2 linked regions of the Homo sapiens genome follow. Each later gene encodes a partner of the first gene's protein in a complex. Each region holds a gene or a part of one and is shown in the gene's direction. Other genes may lie near its edges.

What was found.
Region 2: the proteins of RIOX2 (region 1) and RPL27A are in contact, whole or in part, in a crystal structure (PDB 4BXF), measured with the Homo sapiens proteins. Residues at the interface, in NP_001035998.1 of Homo sapiens: Arg98, Asn101, Gln136, His138, Gln139, Leu161, Val162, Gly163, Ser164, Asn165, Tyr167, Leu176, Pro177, His179, Asp181, Asp182, Val183, Val211, Thr255, Ser257, Thr258, Gln260, Asp333, His337, Met405, Met406, Gly407; in NP_000981.1 of Homo sapiens: Gly36 (codon at 8,026), Leu38 (codon at 8,032), His39 (codon at 8,035), His40 (codon at 8,038), His41 (codon at 8,041), Arg42 (codon at 8,044), Ile43 (codon at 8,047), Asn44 (codon at 8,050).

The regions. Positions count from the first base shown.
Region 1 is NC_000003.12:97,968,061-97,979,442, reverse strand, and holds the start of RIOX2 (ribosomal oxygenase 2), read left to right. Parts: upstream 1-7,011; 5' UTR 7,012-7,062; exon of another isoform or gene 7,063-7,853; intron 7,854-11,382. UniProt on the Homo sapiens protein: Oxygenase that can act as both a histone lysine demethylase and a ribosomal histidine hydroxylase. Is involved in the demethylation of trimethylated 'Lys-9' on histone H3 (H3K9me3), leading to an increase in ribosomal RNA expression.
Region 2 is NC_000011.10:8,676,019-8,687,345, forward strand, and holds the start of RPL27A (large ribosomal subunit protein uL15), read left to right. Parts: upstream 1-6,773; 5' UTR 6,774-6,795; coding exon 6,796-6,798; exon of another isoform or gene 6,799-7,183; coding exon 7,184-7,247; intron 7,248-7,987; coding exon 7,988-8,063; intron 8,064-8,208; exon of another isoform or gene 8,209-8,338; intron 8,339-8,699; coding exon 8,700-8,874; intron 8,875-9,420; exon of another isoform or gene 9,421-9,551; intron 9,552-9,659; coding exon 9,660-9,788; 3' UTR 9,789-11,327. UniProt on the Homo sapiens protein: Component of the large ribosomal subunit. The ribosome is a large ribonucleoprotein complex responsible for the synthesis of proteins in the cell.

The DNA.
Region 1 (11,382 bases):
ATTCCACGCAAGGGTTAAGTCACTCACCCCTGCACTTAAAGAAAAATAAACTGTGTTCTAACTGCCACAAGGTTTTTATTTTTCTCTAGCAGCTAAACAAGTACTGGCCTTGAGATAAGCAATATTAAAACAATTGTAGCTTAGCACTGGACACTAAATAACTGACCTCCTATTCTACCAGCCATAACTTCAGCTTTGATTGGACAAGAGACTGATTTCAGTAACTTTATCCTGATAAGAAAACCACCAACAATAGACTAGCTCTGGCTGGTTTACAGAGGTTGTGTACTTGCCTGGCTTTGCATCCCAAAAACATCTCTTGACATATAGAGCCTAATTGCAATATATTTGAATGTAAAGTTTCCACCTCAAAGTGAACATGGGTCATATGTTATTAAATACATGCATATTTGTTCAATATGCAAGTGTCAGGACCACCTTCATGAATATTCATAGCTCTTCCCATAACTGCTGGGCATGTAGGTTTAGCCAACTGGTTAAGCATTAAAGTCCTACCCCCACCCCCACTCCTTCCAAAGTGCCTCTTCCTGGTCTTGGCCAGAAAGGAAGCCTGAGGGATGGGCACCTTGCAGGGTATAATCCTTTATGGGAAATAAAGTCTCCTTTCCTTTACAATTTTATATATATTTTTTCTTAATTTAGCAGCACCCAATGGCCCTGCAGGGCCCTGGGTGCCTGTGAATGTCGGCACTCACCTTCCTGCACCAGGGTAGAGCACGGCACTTAGCAGCAAATAAAAGATACCACCCTGATAGTAAAGAAAGAGAGACAAAAGAAGGGAATGGTTTTATATGTTAATACCTTTAATGGCACTCTTTTGAAAAGGGGCTCTATATTTTCATTTTGCAACAGGTCCCACAAATTATGTAGCTGGCCCTGGTGACAGCTATTCAAATGTTGAAGCTTTCAAGGGATGCAGGGTGTGAGATAAAGTAACAAATGTCTGCTTCTGGCCAGCCACATAGCCCTTGCTGTGAAAAAGCAATGTTGCTCATTCTGCCTGTCAGCCTACCTTCAGAAGCCCCTGACTCAGTGACAAGCACAGCCCTCCGGAAGAATGCCTTGAGGATGAGAAGCAGAACCGAGCACAGATTCCCACATCTCTTGCCTAAATCACTGCATTTTTAGAAAAGATAAGTCCAATGATCCTAGCTTTTGCCTTTTCCTGTCCATAAGATAACATCTGACAGGATTAATAATTATACCTCTGTGATTTGTAACCAGATGTACTCTTGCACCCAAACTTTGATGAGATTTTGCTCTAATGTAACTTCTGAGTACATTCGATGTAACTTCTGAACATGCACAGAACCTCCACCACCTAATGTATAAGTTATGGGTGGAAACACTGCTTTGGAACAGTCTAACAGAACTCTGAAAGGCTCTCCCTGGTTGCAATTGTCAGTGAGACTCTGAATGAAATTAATTTAATTCTTTGAAAGTCTAGCTTTTTCTTTAGTTGACAAGGAGAAGGTTGATCTGGAGGTGAGACTGGGTTTATTGAAATTAACCTTGAGATCTCTGACAGACTGCCTAAGACCCTGTGTCTCTTTTCCTGTCTGGGCCAATGGACCCCACTGCTTCCTGGTCCACTATGCCACTCTCTTTGTCACCTTCCAGGTTGTCCAAGCCTAACTACTTTCCACAGCAACCACTCAGCCCAGAAGATGCTCAGTGGTCCTTGATGTGACAATCTGTGTGAGAGTAGGCTGCTTCCACACTGCCTTTTTGCCTCAGAGTGCTATGATGAGGTCACCGGCCAACTCCTTCTTCAGGATATTCCAGGTGAGAAGCAGCCTCCACATTCCCAGGGCCGTATATCTGGGGTACAAGAACTTTCCAACCCCAGTGGGATCTTTGGGACCTTTGGCCAATAACTTAGTTTCCTGGTTCCTCAGTTTCCTCACATGTAAAACTTGGAGAGTTATAGTATCTTCCTTTTAGATTTTTGTGTGTATTAATAAGTTTATGTACTCAGTTTTTTAAAAGGGCCTGGAAAATGGAAAGTGGTAAGTATTGAACAAATAAAAAATAATAATATTGTTTCCAGTTTGGGGGATTCAACTGAAATTTCAAGTCAAAATCCCACAGAGGTTATTTCACCAAAGGTTGGGCCTCTAGGTTTATAAATAACATTTGTCTGTAATTTTCTTTTTCAGTTATTTTCCTTTTCTATATTCAGAACCAGTTTATATGAGGTATATTTTTCTCTTCTTTGAAAGTTTTAAAAAACTTCATTAACAGACCCATCAGTACCTGACTAGTACCACCTTAGTTGGTCATTTTTAGGTCATTATGATATTTTAAAGGAAAATAAGTAAACTAATGTTGCATCATAATATTGGGGCTTCCTGACCCATATATACATTCTGTTAGTCTTGTAGGAAACATTTTCAATAGGAGCTTGTGTACCTTTTAACAAAGCAACCCAAAGAGTATGAGCAGAAAGCACCTCTGCAGGAGTACATATTTTTATAAGAATTGGGCAAGTCAATTTCAAGATTTATGATAACATGTTAAGTAAGAAAACATCTCTGTAAGGGAAAGTCATTGGAAAATCCTGAGGCATATTTTCACCTGCAAGTGCTGGGTTGCTGGAGAAAGGAGGTCTGCAGAATCATTTAAGAAAAGTCATGCAGCCTAACACCAACTTTCCTATAGGCACAGGCTGTAAAAGAAATTGGACTCTAAGCAAGAAAAGAAAATAGGAATGCTTACCCAATTCAATTTTGTAAACAGAGTAACTACTCTGTGAAGAACTCTGTTGCAGTTCTCAGAATTAAAGAAGCACATTTCTTGCTCCCAAGGAGTTTAAATCATAGTTTTATAAATATGCAAAATATAATTCCAAACGGTGATGGTATGCTTGTTATCAAGTTAAGTACGTTGAGTTCTATGAGCTGTATCGTAACTACTATAGTCTTGAAAGACCTCGGCCTGGGTCATTGTTAAACAAATTTGACTTTTCTGAAGGTACTAAGACACCAAGATTATCCCATGGTGATATGACATCAATTTGAAGGTACTCTGCTTGATGAATTGTGTAAATTAAGTGAAGTATGCATGTATAAAAGGCCCAACTGCATTTAATTCATTCCATGGAATCATGTTCAAGATGTCATATGGGATTTAACAGTAATGCCTCTCACACTCAATAGCATTTTACAGTTTTAAAACTCTTTTGCTTACTCCACCTCACCTGAAACTCACAGCATCTTTCCGAGTTAGGTGAAATTAACCACTTTTGGAGAAACATAAACAGAGGTCCAAAGAATATTACTTGATAGGCAGTATGGGTGCTATGGTCTGAATGTTTGTCCCCACCCTGGATTCATATACTGAAACAGAATCACCAATGTGATTGGAAGGTGGGGCCTTTGGGAGTAGATTATGTCACGCGGGTAAAGCCTTATAAATGGGATTATAAAGAGGACCCACAGAATTGCCTTCCCACTTCTACCACGTGAGGATGCAGCTAGAAGGTGTCCTCTGTGAACCAGAGAACAAGCCTCCAAAACTGTGAGAAGTCCATTTTTGTTGCTTATAAGCCACCCAGTCTTAGATATTTTCTTATAGCAGCCCAAATGAAAAAAATGGACTATCAAATGATGTATTTTTGAGCAAGTTCCTTAACCTTGATGTGTCTGTTTCCTTATATTAAAAAGTTAGCCCAATATAGTGGTATAAATATTAAAGTCATATACTAGAAAGACATGGTTTAGATATTTTCTGGACCAAAGTGAATACAAACACATAGGGGGCAGTACTCACATAGTTTAAAGCAATGTGTGTTTCCTGGAATCGTATGACACAGTAGCATTATAAAATAAAGCTTTACAACAAAAATACAAATATTAATCATTTTATAAGTTCTTCAATGTTTATAGACTGAAAGGTAATTCCAATCAGACTGATTCTTCTTCTAATGCCCTTTGAAAATTGGAGCACAGACCCTTAAGCCTATGGAATTTGAGTGCCAATAGGGATATCACAGTACATCTGGTGCAATCTTACTTTATAAATGAGGAAAGTGAATGTTAGCAAAGAGAGTTTTCCAAATTCATATACCTGGCCCCTCCAGAGTTAGATCTAATAACCATAAAAAGTACATTTACACACCACCATTTTTAGATTTTTTTGCACCCAGCATCATTGTGACTGGAGGTAGGAGTAGGACAGGGTTGCACTTTTGCAGCCTGATGCCCAGGCTGGACAGGTGCACAGCCACAATGAGGTGGCTAAAAACCAAAAGCTCTACAGGAAGAAGAGCCTAGGAGACCACAGAAGAGGAAGACAAACTTGGCTCTAAAAAGAGTCTTTTAATAAAGCAATCCAAACGGTGTGAACGTCAAGCACCTCTGCAGAAATGTAACTTATTTTACAAGGCTCATGGACAAGTCTGTTTCAGGGTTTATGGCCGAGACATGAAGGGAATTCTCTTCTTTCTCCTGTCTCCTTGGCATCTTGTTCCTCAGTTACAGAGGAGGAGCGCTAGTCTGTTGATTAGAAATCTGGAGGCTTCTAGACTTTTCCGGACAGATCTTGAGAGCTGCCATCTACAACATTGTTTTCATGAGAAAATTAATTACAGAAACAAAATAACTGACTTTTAAATGAACCTATGGTGGGGACTGGATAGCAGTCTGCATCTTGTCCTCTGGAAGAACTTTTCCAAAAAAAAAAAAAATACCAGAAACAATACATGTAGGAAGGCCATATATTCTAGAAGCCTCCCAGGCAAGGTTGCAGACCATTCTCCACTCCCATCCCATGCCACCCTTACTTCCTCACCTCCTCTTCCTCCTCTCAGGCAAGGTTGCAAGCCATTCTCCACTCCCATACCATCCCACCACACCCTTACTTCCTCCCCTACCTCCTTCCCTCCCTCCCCCTTCCTCCCTCCCTCCCCGCCCCTTCCTTCTTTCCTTCCTTTAGACGGAATTTCGCTCTTGTCACCCAAGCACAAACTAACTTTCCTTCTCTTTTTCTTTTTCTTTTCCGAAACAGAGTTTTGCTCTTGTTGCCCAAGCTGGAGTGCAGTGGTGCAATCTCAGCTCACTGCAACCCCGCCTCCCTGGTTCAACCAATTCTCCTGCCTCAGCCTCCTGAGTAGCTGGGATTACAGGCAGGCACCACCATGCTTGAGTAATTTTTTTGTATTTTTGTTAGAGACGGGGGTTTCACCATGTTGGCCAGGGTGGTCTTGAACTCCTGACCTCGGGTGATCCACCGGCGTCAGCCTCCCAAAGTCCTGGGATTATAGGCGTGAGCTACCGCACCTGGCCCCTTCTCCTTTTCTTCACAGGAATGATGGGCACTGTTTAGGTCTGAAAATGGAACTATCATGACTTTTTTGCTTGCTATGCTAAGAAATCGGAATTATAATGAAAAAAATCAGAGAGAACATACTGATATACTAATTTTGCATTAGAGGAACTCCTACACAAGATGTATGATTTCCCCCTGCAAAGCTGACTTCCATATGTACTTTTGTTCTGTTAGACATCCTGCGGCCATTTTATATGCTGAGAAAATGGTATTTTGTGTTGACATTATAACTTTTTTCTACAACCGTACTGCTTTTCCAAGTGGTGGACGTGTGAGAATTTACCTTTATCTGAATCCCGGGAACAGCAATATTATTCTATATTATCTTGAGTAGATGTCTTGCAGTCAAAATAAAGAGCGAAGTACATTACCAATATCATATCAACTAGAGATTTTTGCTGTTGACTATTCTTTTTTACCCTGTAAGGGCTAAATTTGATGTTACCCTCGAGTTTTTCCAACTGGAACCTGCCAGGAAACTTACTAGTTATACGAGTATTAGTAAAACGTGAAAAAGACCAACAGTTGACTGACTGGTTTGGCTCTAATCTTGTTTCTGCATCTTCCTAGCTGTGTGATCTTGTGCAAGTTAGTTAACCTCTCCTGACTCAGTTTCCTCAACTGTAAAATGGAGGTAATTGCAAGGTTGTAGTGAGGATGAAGTGAGGAGTATTTGAAACACCTAGCGTGGTGCCTTATAGCCAGGAAGAACTCAATTCAAGACTTGCTATTATTGTTAGTTTTAGACAAATACTAGACAAGGGTGTACTTTGTTCCCATTTGTTCATGTGCCACTTGATCCTTAGAAGCAGCCACTGGTCTCAGTCACCTTGACGGAACGAAATGTCGACTTCCTCTGGGTCCTCTGGCTGTCTACAGAGCAAAGAAAGGCACAGGCCCGCCACTGATTTCCCTGCTCCCTCATTTGTGCCTCCTGACTGGAACCAAATGTTCCAAAGCAGGGAGTGTTAGGCTGAAAGGACTCAGATAACTGCATTTCTTCTGTTTCTATAGCCATAGTCGCAACGAATTTCCAGTATCTTTTAAAACTAGGATTGACTCTCTCTCCCGGAGCGAGATGATATAAATGACACTCGGCTTGTACAAATCAGCATTGTGTAGCCACACAGCCCATAAGAAAGCCATGGGAGAACCCGGACCACCAACTCCCTAAACTTGCACCGCTGGTATTCCTCTTCAGGCCTGCTTCTCTATTCATAAAAGGAACGGAGTTGCACCAAAACGCTCTCTCAAATCCTCTCCTGCCGCCCCAAGTTAAAAGAAAAAAAAGGAGAGCCGGGTGGGTGGCTCACACCTATAATCCAGCACTTTGGGAGGCCGAGGCAGGAGGATCGCTTGAGCCCGGGAGGTAAAGGTTGCAGTGAGCCAAGATCGCTACCACTGCACTCCAGCCTGGGCGAGAGTGAGACCTTGTCTCACATACCATAAAAAAAAAAAAAAAAAAAAAAAAAAAAAAAAAAAGAGGAAAAAAAAGGCCATTTATTTCCTTCCATATGGACTAAAGAAACGCCCGGGCGTGAACGCGGAACACCGCCGGGTAGCCAGGCCTCCGGGCTGCCACCACTTGCGGGCCGGCGTGGCGGGGCGGGGCGGGGGCTGGAGCACGGCCCGGAGCGTGCCCACGCTGCCCCGCCTCCAGCCGCTGCGCCGCAACGCAGTGGGCTCGCGGCCGCGAGCAACAGGCCGTGCCGGGTGAGTGGGGCGCTCTCGTGGGCATCCCAGCGCCGGGGCAGGCCGGGTAGTGCCCGATCCCGCGGGGCGCGCGCTGCTGCTTTAGGCACCCGGGCTCGGGTGCGGGTCTGGGAGACCTGTCGGTCGGCGAGAAGCCTCGGTGGCCGGCGCTGTGGTTGCGGGACCTGGGACGCGCTCCCAGGCGTCCCACCTCCCCGGAGACTGGGGCAGGGTGGGTGGGGCCCGGATCTAGGGGTAGGGTCGCGGAAGCCTTGGTTACAGAGAGTCGCACACGTGGCCTGCTAATGGTCGCGACACCGGTGACGAGCGCACGGAAAGTTTGGAGGCTTAGCAAGGAGGGTGGTGCCGGCCTCCGCCCGGTGGTGGCAGAACTGCCTGTGCGAGCACGGCTTCCACGTGGGCTGCGCCGCCGGGCGTCATGTCGGGCCTAAGAGACACGCTCTACAGCTGTGAAATCTGAAGTTCAGGTGTGTGGGGAGAAGGGCAGCTGCATTACATCATATGCTTCCAATTCATTTACCAGCAAATAATTCCGCAACGATTGGCCGACAGCTGGGTTGTCCAACAGGTTACTGAGACCAGGTTATTCACTGTTTTCAGGAAGGATAGACTGGGAGGAAGAGGATCTGATTTCGCCACTCATTAGCTGTAAATCTGGTGCCTCGGGTTTCATGTCACTGGGCTCATCTTTGAGCAGAGGAACCTGATTTACTCAGCTTCTTCTGCTGGTACTGGTTTTTGCCTCCTGGACATCAAGCTTTGTAACCTCATGGTCACGAAAATACATTGAGGTATAGTCCGTTTCCTCTCTAAAATCAGACTAAAAAGATAACTGCTGATCACTCCTTTAGGTCAATAGGAGAACCAGTTTTCCCTCTGGATTGATTAACATATCTCTGAGCCAAAAAGAAATGTTTTAGATCAGTCTGGGCAACCTTGTTACAAGCAATATATAATTTCTGACAGCCGTGTGTTTAACTGAGCTGCGTTTGACTGTTGTCCTCCATTAGTGGACCTAAAATTCATCTAGAGAGCGTATTACGTTAATGCAGATTATGGGCCTCAGCCATCAGAAGTGGCAATCCAGTGGGCTTGATGAGGGCCCAGAAATTTGCATGCTAACAACCTTGCTGGTAACTCTGAACTACATTCTGTAAAACTGCCCAGGGGATGTAGAAATTCATACTTCCCTCCCCGATTTAGTAATAACTACTGATGTCTAAAGTGCCTTTTAGCTTTTACGATACTCTTGAATCCTGAAGTGACAGCTGCAATCAGAAAAATAATCCCCTCTGCACAGGCCATCTGTTTTTTCCGTAACTGTTTTGTGTAAGGCCTTTGTGGTTTGTCTCCAAAATTGTATACAGACAAAAGATGAAAATGTGAAAAATTCAGCAGACATTTCTTGAGGACCTCCTATGTACCACACCGTGCTTGTTTCCGGGGATATACAAATCCTTTCCTTCAAGAGCTTCCTCACGTCTTCATGTCCTCAAATATTATAGAAAAGGAGGTTAGGGTACCTTTAAAATATAGTGACTGTCTGTCTGTTGCCTATAGTATGGTTGTCAACATTGATTTTCTTATAGGGTTTATCTGTGGGGTAGTCACCAAAGTATGAACTGTAAATCTTTTAGTCTTTTTACATTTAATGCTTATAGTCAACTCAAATGGAAAACAATTGCTCTTCAAAAACTTTTCTGTGATTTTACAGAAATATTTACTCCTATTGGGGTGGTCTCTAAGGCTTATGGGCAAGGTTGTGTTGGCTGTACTATTCTAGACAAAGCATTGTCTTCTTTAATTACTATAGTATTGGATTCTAAGATATGTGTTTTACTTCTTGCTGTTTCCGAAATTATGATATGTACCTTAAGACTTTTGTATGTTTAATGTGGTAGGATGCTTCATCTATTCTCCCCTCTGCTCTAGAAAGCTGTTAAGAGGAATGGTTGTCTTACAGTATGAGTAGTGTGAGAATCAGAGAAATAATGTATTTGCCCAGAAACCTCTAAGCTTAGGCTCCAATTAACTGAGCCTCAAATCATTTCAACATGAACACAGAGAAACAAATGATGTAACTTTTGGCAGTATGGGTAGTGAAATTTATATTCTAAGGAAAGCATTTGTTATACAGTATTGGGGTTTGTTAGTGATTGTAGATGGGAAAGATTCTTTTAAGTGATTTTATTTTGGCTTAAGTGTTTTGCATTCTTTGATTAGCCACACTTTCTGGTGAATGTGCTTATACTGTATTCATATATTATGCTTAAAGAAAAGCTTTTCGTTTGCATCTTCCTCCTGCTCTCTCCCCTTAAATGAATTTTAAACTGACCAATTGTGAGAGATAAGAGATGTGTGGCTGAATATAAAATGACTCTATAGGGTGCCTTTAGTAATACAAACCTAATAAACCAATCTAAGTTTTTAAAAATTAAACGTGAGCAATGTGCTGTGGTCCCCAAGGCCATCTTTAGTTCAGCAATTTGCTAGGAGGACTCGGCTGATTTATTACAGGGAAAAGATATCAAGCACAGTCAGCAAAGGGAAGAGGCACATGGGTGAAGTTCTGGGGATACCAAGTGCAAGGCTCCAAGGGTCTTCGAGCGGTCACACTGGCTGTGCTCAGTTGCTCCAGCAACTAGTTGTGTCAACACTTGTGAAATGTTGCCAACCTGCGAAGCTTGTTAGAGACTCAGTGCCCAGGGCTTTTACTGGGGGCTTTTCACTTAGGCCACCCCTGCCTGGCACATACCAACGTTTCCAGACTCCCAGAGGAAAGCAGGTGTTGGTATAAACTGTAATGATTGTACATTTTAGGCATGGTGAGCCACTCCTATCAGTTAATGGTGGTGGAAACTCTCCCAAAATCTTAAGTTCTCAGACATCGGCCACAAGCTGCACTTTCAAAGGATAGCAGTCAGGCCTGCTATGGAACGTCTTCTGCATAAGCAGTACCCCTTCCCGAATCCATTTTTCTATCTCTTTGTATTTCTCCATCACTTGAGAGTTCCATGTACTAGCAATGCTGTGCCTTCCTGAAGCCTTAATTCTTTCCTGGAGAATTCAAGCTGGTCTGTTTCACTTAAAGGAAACATTTTCAGAAAATGTGTCTTACTGACCACATATCCTAAACACTAAAGTTTATTTTTTTTTTCTAAGCTTCAAGCTTTACCCCTCTCCTGTAGTATCAGTTTGTGTTAGTCTTCCACCATGTCCTGTGTTTCCTTATCAAAAGCACCTGGTCTTTTGAAGGAATGGAGCTGTTTAGAGGGTTTTATATTTTGACATTTCCTTTCTTAATTTGTTCAGTTTACATCTGGGTTTCAATCTAAAGTTTCTTTTATAAGTTGCAACACGTCACACAGTATGCAACACATCGTTCCAGGATGCTTACTTCCCAGGCCAGAACATTAATTCCACTTAGTCTACAGTGTAGCTGAAATACTGCTTAGTTATAATGACAAAAGAACAGAAAACAGTATTCTTGCAATTCTGATAACTCACCAAAGTAGGAAACTATACCATTTATAAATAACAAGTCTTTCAGAAATTTTGGTTTTTATAAGTACAGTGGTTCTTAACCTTGTCAGGAGATAGGGACTTCCTTAAGAATCTGTTGAAAGTGATGGAGTCCCTTCCCAGAGGGAAAGGACTTTAAGATAGAATTTTGCAGTCTCAGGAAATTTAAATAATTTGAATTACAGTTCTTGGAAACAGATGAGGGAAACCTACCCTCTAAGTATCAATAGTTGTGGTTTGGAGGCAGTTCTGAAGGAGCTTTGCAAGGCTTGGCTGTGTGGCTTCGACTACTCAGCAGTGTCAGCAGCAGAAGCATCACCTGGGAGCCTGTTAGAAATGCAGAACCTCAGGCTTCACCTTGGAGCTAGTGGATCATATCCTGCATTTTATTGAGATGCTAAGGTGATCTGTGTGCACATTAAAGTTGGAGAAGTGCTGTGTTAGGGGCTAATGATATTGGTATTATTTAAAATCTTCAGTTAAAAAGTTATAGTTTTTTCAAGGCTTTAGATATAACTACTTTTAGCCTTCACTTTTCAGCCTTTAGGGGCTTTATTTCTTTAAACGAAGGGGAGTTTCTGATAAAAGTGGCCGTTTTCAGGAATAAGCTCAGAGTTGGAAGTGAGCAGGTTCAGGTGGTTAGTGGAGACAGGAGAAGGCAGTGGCCTGCTCCAGCCACCAGGAGACACCGCGGGTCCAGGGCGCATTGATTGACCTGCGCAACAGTTGGGGTGGTGCTGCGGTGAGGAGCACCTGGCAGTGGGCGGCTGTTAGTTTTTCTCTAGTCAAATGTTTGTA
Region 2 (11,327 bases), on another chromosome or scaffold:
CACATCGTCCATTATGTTTCATTTTTTAAAAGGCTAGTTTAACTTGCAACTCAATAGCACAAGCACAGTTTCTCACTTTGATATGTAGTAGGAATACTTTTTCTTCACACAGAACATCAAAAAGAAATCTAAAAAAGTACTTAAGAATTTCAGGATTGAGATTTAATAAAAATTGTTACCACTTCATCATGGATGGACATTCTTAAGGTAAACTTCTTTTTTTTTTTTTTAACCGGCAGATGCTTAGTGGTAAAGAATATAAGGTTTTGTTCCAGTTTGGTGCCCAAAACATCAGCAGTTTTACATAACATTGCTTTGGCACCATCAGTGCAAATGTCAACCCAGTGAAAAGATCAAATAACACGTTAGCTTTATTATTAAAATTGTTTGACCTGTGAACTCCCTGAAACGGTCTCAGGGACCCCCCACCCCATAAGGTCTACAGACCACACTTGGAGAACTACTGCATTAGACCTTGCATCACAATCCTGGGAATTCAGGGAGGTAGCATGGCTTTCCACCACCAGCAAGTACTACACAGGGTAAGAATATAAAGAAACAGGCATCTCATTTATGTCTTAGAAGAGCAATTGAAGTAACTCCATGAAAGTAAATGGTTAATTTAAAGGCACAGCCACACAATGAGTTTCTGATTTGAGAAGACGAAGGGTCAAATGACCCCATTTCTGCCCCCTTCTTATGGCTGCTTTCATCATAACTTAGTTCTTCCCTCTCCTTCTTATCTCCCCTGACCTAGAAGAGTGTAGGGGACAGAGTTTGCAAGACTGTACTTAAGCCAAGGTAGTAAATTCAAATGCCTACAGGGGCTGGGCAATCTATATGAACGAAGTGCTTTACTTAAAAGAATGTGGGTCTAATGTCTCCAAATCTTAGTTTTCCAAAACCCAGGAAATTATTTTTATTTACATTTTAAAATGTTAACAAAAAGTTAAATTTTAAAACATTGCCTTGCCACAAACCACCTCCTTTTAACATCTTACCACATCTATATCTAAGAAAAGGAAAATATTTACTGGAGTACCTTAACCTTGCTAAGGAATGATGGAACAAGTCATTCCACATCACATTGGGAATAAGAATTTCAAAGATTGTTTGCATGAAGGGTACAGAACAAATTATCATAAAAATAACACTCATTTTAGGGAGAAAATGTGAGCGAGAAATAGTAGGTAATGAGAGTACCTACTCTTTGCTAGGCTGTGTTATATGTGATATATTATTTGTTTGCTTGTTTAATGTATGTCTTAGACATAGTCTTAGGGAAGGACTTTTGTTCACAATTGTACCTGCCCCTCACTTGCCTGGCACCTAGCATAGGAACATAGTACACACTCAATTAATATTTATAAAACGAATGAATGAATCTCATTATTTTTTCATTATACAGACAAGAAAACAGATTCAAAGAGAACATGCTATTTGTTCAATATAATTCAGTGAGTAAAAACAGAACTAGGAGGCTGGGCGTGATGGTCATGCCTGTAATCCCAGTGCTTTGGGAGGGCGAGGTAGGAGGGCTGCTTGAGGCTAGCAGTTTGAGACCAGCCTGGGCAACATACAAGACCTTATCTTTAAAAACAACAACAAAAAAAACAGAACTAGGAAATGAACCCAACTTTCTGTGTTCTTTCCATTAATTTTATCCTCTGAAATTAAAGTAAAACCCAAATATGTAACTCCTTTTTTCTGCTATTGTATAAGCTGTTCTCAAAGACTCTAGAATTTCTCTTTTCACGTTTTGTTACTCTGAGTTTAATGGCAACAAGGTTTTCCACCCTAGTTTCCAATAAAGCTTTAGGAATGTAATTGCCATGTAGAACACTCTATCCAACACAGGAAAGAAAGACTCCTAAAAATTCCTAATCTTCCAATTAGATTATTTTTACTTTGTGCTGAAGAAAACCTCGCCTGATCCTATGGATTTCCCCTAAATGCCATATATCAAAAACTACCGATAAAGGCAAACAAAAACCCCCAAGGCTAGGGAGGTTAAAATGAAACTGGAAACTGTACATATTGCTGGTGAATAAATTGGTACGATCCTTTTGGAAAAAATACATAGTAACATAAAATGAATCACAAAAATGTTCATACCATATAATCCAGCAGTCTCACTTCTGGGAATTTATCCTAGACAAGTTATTCAACAGGAGAAGAAAAAATTATATACAAATGCTCATTCCATCATTGTCTCTAACAGCAAAGAATACAATAAGAATTTTTTAAAAAAACAAAATACACAAGAAAGTGGCTTAATAAAAGATAGCACATGCTGAAAATAAATTATTCTTCAGCTGTTAAAAATAATCATGAAGACTGGGTAGTGATACGAAAAACTGCCATGGTATTAAATAAAAAGAATACAAAAGGATTTGTATACTATGATCACTAACTTTGCAGACAGCTATGTCTCCATGTATACAAGGGTTGAAAGGTAATACTCAGAAAAGAAAATGGCATCACAGGGTGGAATGATTTGAGTTGCTTATACTTATATTTTTTTCAGAATTTTCTTTACTGTTGTACTGTCTATTACGTATAATTTTTCAAGTCTTTCTGAAGTAAATTGGGATTTCTGAGCTTTTCTCTAATTCTCACTTGGAAAAAAAGCAGAAACACTGCTTCTTCCCATCTTGATTAACAGTGCTCTACTTAAAAAAGAAAACGAACATATTTCCAAATGTCCACATCTAAAGATGGAGAGCAAGAAAACAGAGCTGGATTCATTCAGGATGTTGCTGCTATCTGAAGGACTGATGTCGAATTCAGGAACCCAGTGAGGAGAGAAAGGAAGAGGGATCACCAGGGCCTTCTTCAGGGTGATGATGTGTTCCCAAGGCCACCTGGAGAGAGGCCTGGGGCAGCAAAAAATCAGCACACTTGCCTGCCTCACCAGGCTGCTGTCTGGTATCATCTCTTCCGTTCATTTCTGAGGTATTTTCTGAGGCCCTCACACTCTGAGGAAGCCCAGATGCCTGAGATGTCACAAAGCCATGCTGTACTTCAGAAGAGATGTCACAGAGAAGGACACCCCTCAGGAGTCATGGCCAAAGGTCATGTCCCATGTGCCTAGCTGGGAGGGACAGGTCCCCTAATGCCAAATATCTGGCTGCTACTCCACTTTGCAGACAGAAAACTCAGCTTTGTCTGCTCTCTCAGACCTCTGTCAACCTAGGAAAAGTGACACACACTGAACAAACACCACATGAGCTGTGTGTTTAAGTCATGTGGTTGCCTTTTGAAGGAGAGGGAGCTGGATAGAAAACTGGATTGAGCCAGACAACTACCCAGGGTACTCCCTCTACAACCAGATCAAGCCATTGATGAGAAGAATGTTAGGTGAACACAGAACCCAACGGGTAGTGCTGGGTCCACTCTGGGAGGCCTTCTGTTCAGCCGCGTGACCTGAGGGACAGAACGTAGCTCCTCTATAACCAAGGAACCTGGCAAACTATCCAAGAGGAGTGTCTTAGCACCCAGAACCCTACCTCAACCCCTTGCAGTGGTGGTCCTTATTGTAGGCCCCAGCTCTAATACCACTGATGGTTCCCTTTCATTCCCAAGGCCCTGCCCAGCTTACCTCCATTGACAGATCATCTTCCCAAGGTTAGGTTCCAGGTAACCCAGCTCATTTCTTGTGCACTTACTGGCCAGTTTTGATGTCAAATAGACGACGATGTCTTCTTTGATCTCCCCTCCTATTCTCAAGACCCCTCTTCCTGCTGGTCACATGCAGTATGTGATTAAGGTTGATGGAGGGATGAAGACCATAATGCTGTAAGGTCAGAGAGGGACTGGTCACTGAGGTAAAAGCAGGGGATCTGGAGAGAGAAGACTAAAGGCTAGGCCCAGGCTCTGTACCTGACCACCTATGCAGCGTCTGACAAGTCACCCAATTCTTCTGTGCTTCAGTTTTCACACACGTAAAATGAGGCTGGTAGTGCTGTACCTTCAGGCAGATGTATTTTGTAAATTGCCAAGTGCTCTGAAAATGTTGGTTGTTATCCTTGTGGACTGAAGTGTTCTGGGAAGAAGCAGAATATAAAGTTGGCCTTAAAGGTTGAGGAAGATTCAGGACATGTGGTCAGGAAGAGGATGGGCACTCCGGGATGGGAAACAGCATGAGCAAAGGCAAAAATGCAAATGGGATATACCAGGCACGGCTGCAGTAGAAAGCTTGTGTAAGGGAGAGGCTGGGGTAAGGCTGGAAAGGCAAGTGGGCTATATTCTGTTGGTCATAAGGAGCTACCGAACTTTTTGATCAAGTAAAAGAATGAAAGTCATGTTTTCGGAATACTAACGTGGTGGAGGTGTGAAGGATACAGAAATTGGAGGAGGGTTAGAATGCAGGCAGAGTGAACAAAGGAAGGTGTTGTAAACTCCAGTTAAGAGATATGATGGGGGCCTGAATGAAGGCAGGGCACTAAGGCTTAAACAGAGGAAGCACATTGGGGAGATACAGAAACAAAAGGATAGGGTGACAGTGTAGTAGAAGAAGAGAAGGCTTGGGGACAATTTTCATTATCTAGGTGGACAATGGTGCCACTCACCAAGACAGAGAATAAAGGAGAAGGCACCAGTGAGCAGTGCAGATTGAGTTCTTTGGATATGTTTACTTTGTCTGTAGAATGTCCAAGGAATACTAACCAGTAATTAAGTGACCATATGGGTGTGGAGCTCAGCAATAAGGATGTGAATTGAAGCCACCCAAGAAGACCATGTACTGTGAAAAGATAAGGACAAGGACAGAAGGCTGAGGAACATCAACATTCAAATGGTGGACAACGCTGGATGGAAGAACCTGAAAAGAAGACTGAAAAGTGACCAAAGAGTAGGAGGAAGGCAAGACTTTTTCTAGAAAAAGACGCCAACAGATTAAAGTACAACAGAAAGAACAAGTGATATGAAGAATAGGAAGAGTCCAATTTGGCAATTCGTTCATTAATGACATTAGTAAGAGCAATTTCACTGAAGTCACAGGCTGTGAGCTAGACCGCAGTGAACAATGGATGGGAAGGTGCAAATGGGCAGGATTTGTAGACTACTCTTTTGGGGAGCTTGGCTGTAAGGGCAAGGACATGGGAGAATTTTGGAATTTTTTTTTTTTTTTTTGAGACGGAGTCTCGTTCTGTCGCCCAGGCTGCAGTGCAGTGGCGCGATCTCGGTTCACTACAAGCTCCGCCTCCCGGGTTCACGCCATTCTCCTGCCTCAGCCTCCCGAGTAGCTGGGACTACAGGCGCCCACCACCACGCCCATCTAATTTTTTGTATTTTTAGTAGAGACGGGGTTTCACCGTGTTAGCCAGGATGGTCTCGATCTCCTGACCTCGTGATCCGCCCGCCTCGGCCTTCCAAAGTGCTGGGATTACAGAAGTAAGCCACCACGCCCGGCCAGAATTTTGGATATTTTAGCTAAAATATATTTTAGCTGAAGGGGGCAAGACAAAGAAAAATAAATAAATACACGCTCACACATACACACAGAGAATAACTGAGGGGATGGGATTTTAAAAATTTATTTCATTTTTCCCATGGGATCTATTAATAGACTAGCGAGGGGATGGGATCTTGAACACTGGTTGAAGGAACCGACTTAAGAGCGAAGACATGCTGCTATTAGCGAAGACAGGGAGGTGAGGGTAAGTTCATTTATTCACTCAACAATCACTAGTTGAGTGTGGATTAAAAAAAACAGTCCTTGACCACATAAGGAATTAGGTCTAGTAGGGAAGACAAACGTAGGTCAATAAATTACATAAGGGTTATACTAGATTGTGTGGTGGTACAGGTGGGGAAGCGAGCAACTGTCTGCATTGTGTCCAGGAAAGGGTCACAGGCGTGTTATGTAGATTCTGGAGAAAATTCAAAAATAGCATTTATTTTTACTTATTTACTTTTGTATGTGGAGACGAGGGTCTCACTATGTTGCCCAGGCTGGTGTTGAACTACTCGCCTCAAGAAATCCTCCCGCCTCGACCTCCCAAAGTGTTGGGACTACAGGTGTGAGCCACCGCGCCTGGCCTAAATGTGGCATTTAGAAAAAGTATTTACAACATCTGCATTAAAAGGACCATAAAGCAACCAGGCATCTAAGTCCCTGAAGCAATTTAAGTTGCTCAAACTTGAGAGGACAACCAAATGATAGCAAAAGGGCAAAAGAGAAAGGAAGCTGCAGTGCCCACTCAGAAGTGTGAGAGCGGGAGAAGGCATTTCGGGAGCCGCCCGAGCTTCAGGAAACCGAGCGAGACACCAGGTGGGCACACTGAGGATTAAAGAGGGCCTCGCGGTTCCGCACTGCGGCCGGGAGACAAACCAGTAGCCACTATCACCAGCCCCGGGCAGACCACTAAGAACTGTGGAGGTGCGCGGGGCGGCTCAGGGCTGGCGCATTTGGTGAGGAGCTCAGACAACGAGGCCCTTAGGGTCGGCTTAGGCGGTTCCCTGACCAAGGCGCCAGAAAAGGGCCTGGCTCAAGCAAGCACGGGCGGCGTGCAGTACAGCACACCTAGCCCCGATTCTTCAACAGTTCTCGCCCTCCGAGCCTAGCACAACGAGCCTCACCGAAACCGTACACCGCCACCAGGACACTCCGTGATGGGGGATCACCACCCTCAGAAAGAGGAAGCGACTAGCAGGCGCGCAATCCCGCGAGACCAGGAGGCCCCGCCCGAAGCCCGGCCTCTGTGACCGGAAGTGAGGCGTTTTGCCCCGCCCCCGTGGCCGATACCTCGCGAGACTTGGCGAAGGCCTTCCTTTTTCGTCTGGGCTGCCAACATGGTAGGTGTTTCGTTTCTTGCCTCCTCTTCCTTGCCGGCGGAGACCCCTAAGCTGTATTCCCATTGCCCCTAGTCATCCACTCCCTACCATGGTCGGGGCTTCCAGGCTGCGCATGGCCGCCTGCGGGGCAGGGTGGCCGGCGCGGGCCCGGGGCGGGGCTCCCGGAGCCGTGTGTTAGGCCCGCGGTTCGGATCTCTAGGACACGCGGGCCCCTGCGCTACCGTGGTGAGACCTCACGGCCCTGAGCGGATCGGTACCCTCAGCTTTCCCAAACGCTCCAGAAGTTAGGTCTTTGACCCACAGGCTTACAGGACCATCTCGGCTGGCGGGCATCGCCCCCTGCCCCTAATTCCTTAGGCCTTACCACCAAGCTTTTTCCACACAGCCATCCAGACTGAGGAAGACCCGGAAACTTAGGGGCCACGTGAGCCACGGCCACGGCCGCATAGGTAAGTGCCGGCTTCCCCTCGGGGTGGGCCTTGGGCTCTCTTCGGGTGCTTAGCTAGTCTGGAGATCGGTAGCCTATAAGTGGGTTAGAATAAGACCTTTTTGTGGTCAAGTTGCACAGCTGTTGATTTTTTTCTGACGATCCTCTAGTATTCCAGTTCTAAGGAATTTCACATCAGTGGGGTAATAGGAATTGAGCAGGCACGGTATTGGGTTAGTTGAAGACATGGAGTACTGTGGGAATGCTGTGATGTGGAACCTGAAAAGATGTTTCACCCGGAATCCTAAAGTAATCGCATTGCTGAAAACCGGCATCGGTAGGGTGGGAACAGCGTAAGCGGGACACAGAAGTCTGGGAAACACTCTGCTTTTGTGCGAGGAAGTATTGAGATGCATGAGAAGGCTGTGTGGTGCATGTAGCTTTTTTGTGTGTGTGTGAGACTGATCACTGTCGCCCAGGCTGGAGTGCAGTGGCGAAATCTCGGCTCACTGCAACCCCTGCCTGCCGGGCTCAAGCGATTCTCCTGCCTCAGCCTCCCGAGTAGCTGATATTACAGGTGTGCGCCACGACGCCCGGCTAATTCTTTTTCTATTTTTAGTAGAGTCGGGGGTTTCTCCGTGTTGGCCAGGCTGGTCTCGAACTCCTGACCTCAGGTGATCTACCCCCCCTCGTCCTCCTAAAATGCTGGGATTACAGGCATGAGCCATCACACCGGCCCCACGTAGCTTTGTATTCCTGCAGGCAAGCACCGGAAGCACCCCGGCGGCCGCGGTAATGCTGGTGGTCTGCATCACCACCGGATCAACTTCGACAAATAGTAAGTGTCCTTGGACTGCTTTTATTGACACAGCTTGGGAGGTAGGGGCAGAGAGAGGGCTGGCTTAAACAAAAAGTTTAGAAGCAAGCCTTGCCTATTGCTGTTTTTTACCAAGTTAACACTTGGTGTGAACTGAGAACCTGTCATCGAGGCTAGAGTCACGCTTGGGTATCGGCTATTGCCTGAGTGTGCTAGAGTCCTCGAAGAGTAACTGCTGACCTTATTCACTGGCTGTGGGCCTTATGGCACAGTCAGTCACCAGGTTAGAGACATGCTTCACATTCACCTACCCACAAACTAGTGGATGATAAATTTTGGCTATTCAGAAGACGTTTATTATAGGAGTATGTAGATTTTCCATAGAGTGCTGTTATGTGACTTGAATTTTAGTCTCGGCCCTGCCTCTGACATTGTCGGTGGTTTATCCTGGTTCCAGGAAATAAGACTAGCCTTTTCCTCATGATAGTCTTTGGTGGTTTTTAAAACAGTTGTTTAAGTCAACAGATGTATCATATGCCTGACACTGCTCTACACCAGTGAATAATTTACACTCTAATAGGGGGTGGTAACTATAAAGATGATAAACATAGCATCTTAATTGGAGTGTGTATGAAGGTGGTTGTTACCTCTTCCTAGCCACCCAGGCTACTTTGGGAAAGTTGGTATGAAGCATTACCACTTAAAGAGGAACCAGAGCTTCTGCCCAACTGTCAACCTTGACAAATTGTGGACTTTGGTCAGTGAACAGACACGGGTGAATGCTGCTAAAAACAAGACTGGGGCTGCTCCCATCATTGATGTGGTGCGATCGGTAAGTTAATTGGATGTTTTTCTGTACTTCCATACCTTCCCTTACAAAACTCTGGCTTAATCTAATCCACTTATATAATCTGTACTTCCCAGTTACCTACCAGACATTGATATTCTTCCTGTGGTAGAATTATCATAGGTAGTTCCCTATCCGTAGCAGTGCCTACTGTCACTGCCCAGGTTGTATCAGGTTTGCATTTCGTGCTTGAACTATAGCTGGTTTTCACTGAGCACAGCTCTTGGCCCTTCATGTTCTCCAGATAATAGAATCCTAATATGTTCCATTGATACTCAGTGCCATGCATTATCTGAAGAGATTTTCCCCCAAAACAGATGTATTATGTCTGTCCTTGCGGGGGTTCTGGTCCCTGTGTCAGTCTTAACTCTCATGAATATAGAGGTAGTGTTAAGAGGCCAGAACCCTAGGGACGCTTTAAATTCACTTCCCAGCCTATTTAATGTCCATTGAGTAGTTCTGGTGGTCAGGAAGGTGGTTGTCTTCTTTTGCTTAGCAGGGGGTATTTGAGCAGGAGGAGGCTTATGCTTTGCCGAGACTAGAGTCACATCCTGACACAACTCTTGTCCTGGTGTGCTAGAGTACTCGAAGAGAATCTACTGGTCTTGATTCACTGGTGGGGGCAGTCGGTGCCCCCGTTAGTGCCCAGATCAGAAACATACATACCCTGCCTAGGGATTTAGAAAGTGGGTTGGCAGTCTTTCCTCACGCCCATCACGCAGTTGGTACCTACTACAGTGTATTGTAAACTTTTTTCTCTGTTCTTCTAGGGCTACTACAAAGTTCTGGGAAAGGGAAAGCTCCCAAAGCAGCCTGTCATCGTGAAGGCCAAATTCTTCAGCAGAAGAGCTGAGGAGAAGATTAAGAGTGTTGGGGGGGCCTGTGTCCTGGTGGCTTGAAGCCACATGGAGGGAGTTTCATTAAATGCTAACTACTTTTTCCTTGTGGTGTGAGTGTAGGTTCTTCAGTGGCACCTCTACATCCTGTGTGCATTGGGAGCCCAGGTTCTAGTACTTAGGGTATGAAGACATGGGGTCCTCTCCTGACTTCCCTCAAATATATGGTAAACGTAAGACCAACACAGACGTTGGCCAGTTAAACATTTCTGTTTATAAAGTCAGAATAATACCTGTTGATCACTGAAAGGCCTGCATGTATTGTACTCTGAATTTTACAGTGAATGAGAGAATGTACCCTAATTGTTCAACAGGGCTCAAAAGGAAAGATTCCATTTTGATGGGTCACATTCTAAAGAGGGGCAGTGTGATAGGAATGAGATGGTCCTTTAGGACTTAAGTTCTCAGCCCAAGGTTTTTCCACGTGGCCCCCTCATCTTTTTTTTTTTTTTAAACGGAGTCTCTCTTGCCAGGCTGGAGTGCAGTGGCACGATCTCGGCTCACTGCAGCCTCCGCCTCCCAGGTTAAGCGATTCTCCTGCCTCAGCTTCCTGACTAACTGGGATTACAGGCGCCCACCACCATGCCCAGCTAATTTTTGTATTTTCAGTAGAGATGGGGTTTCACCATGTTGGCCATGCTGGTCTCTAACTCCTAACCTCAAGTGATCTGCCCACATCGGCCTCCAAAAGTTCTGGGATTATAGTGTGAGCCACTGCGCCCGGCCATGGCTCCTTAATCTTGATCCAAATTATTGTTACATCCAGAATGTGATGAATCAAAATCTCGAGATGGGGGTCCAGCAATCTGAAATTTCAGTATGCCAGGGCTTTTCTGTATGTCAAAGTGGGTTTGAAATAGTTAATTTTTCTTCTAGTCTGAAATGTATCGGGAAAATTTGGAAATCCTGAAGGCTGGAAATTGAAATAAGTTTTTCTAGGATTTGTGTCTCTTGCTATTGGAAAACTGATGGTGACCAATTCATGTTTACAAATAAGATCCTCATAGATCTCGGTAAATTATAATTTGCTACAGTTTTATGGTTCTTCCTGTGATTTTGAGCTTTTTTTGACCCAAAATAATACAGTCTAAAACTATAGACAAATAAGATGGCACTTAGACTCCTGGGTTTTAGTTAGTGGAGGTTTCCTTAGTGCACTGTGGGGTCATAATAAGCCGAGAACCATGGCTGTCTATGGGACACATCTGTCAGGACAACCTTTAGAGGATGTTGGGGATCAAATAGAAGGCACAGAGAAGCACTGAATTGGCTTACATAAGAATAGGCTAGAATTACAAGTAGTGAAACCTCGATTCAGCTGGACAATTTTAAACAAATGTATCATTTGGCTTGTATCTTCTGTTGTGCTGGAGAAGTTAGAAATAAGGGCTCTCCAGACCAGCCTGACCAACCTGGAGAAACCTTGTCTCTACTAAATACACAAAATTAGCCAGGCGTGGTGGCACATGCCTGTAATCCCAGCTACTTTGGAGGCTGAGCCAGGAGAATCTCCAGGAGGCGGAGGTTGCTGTGAGCCGAGAT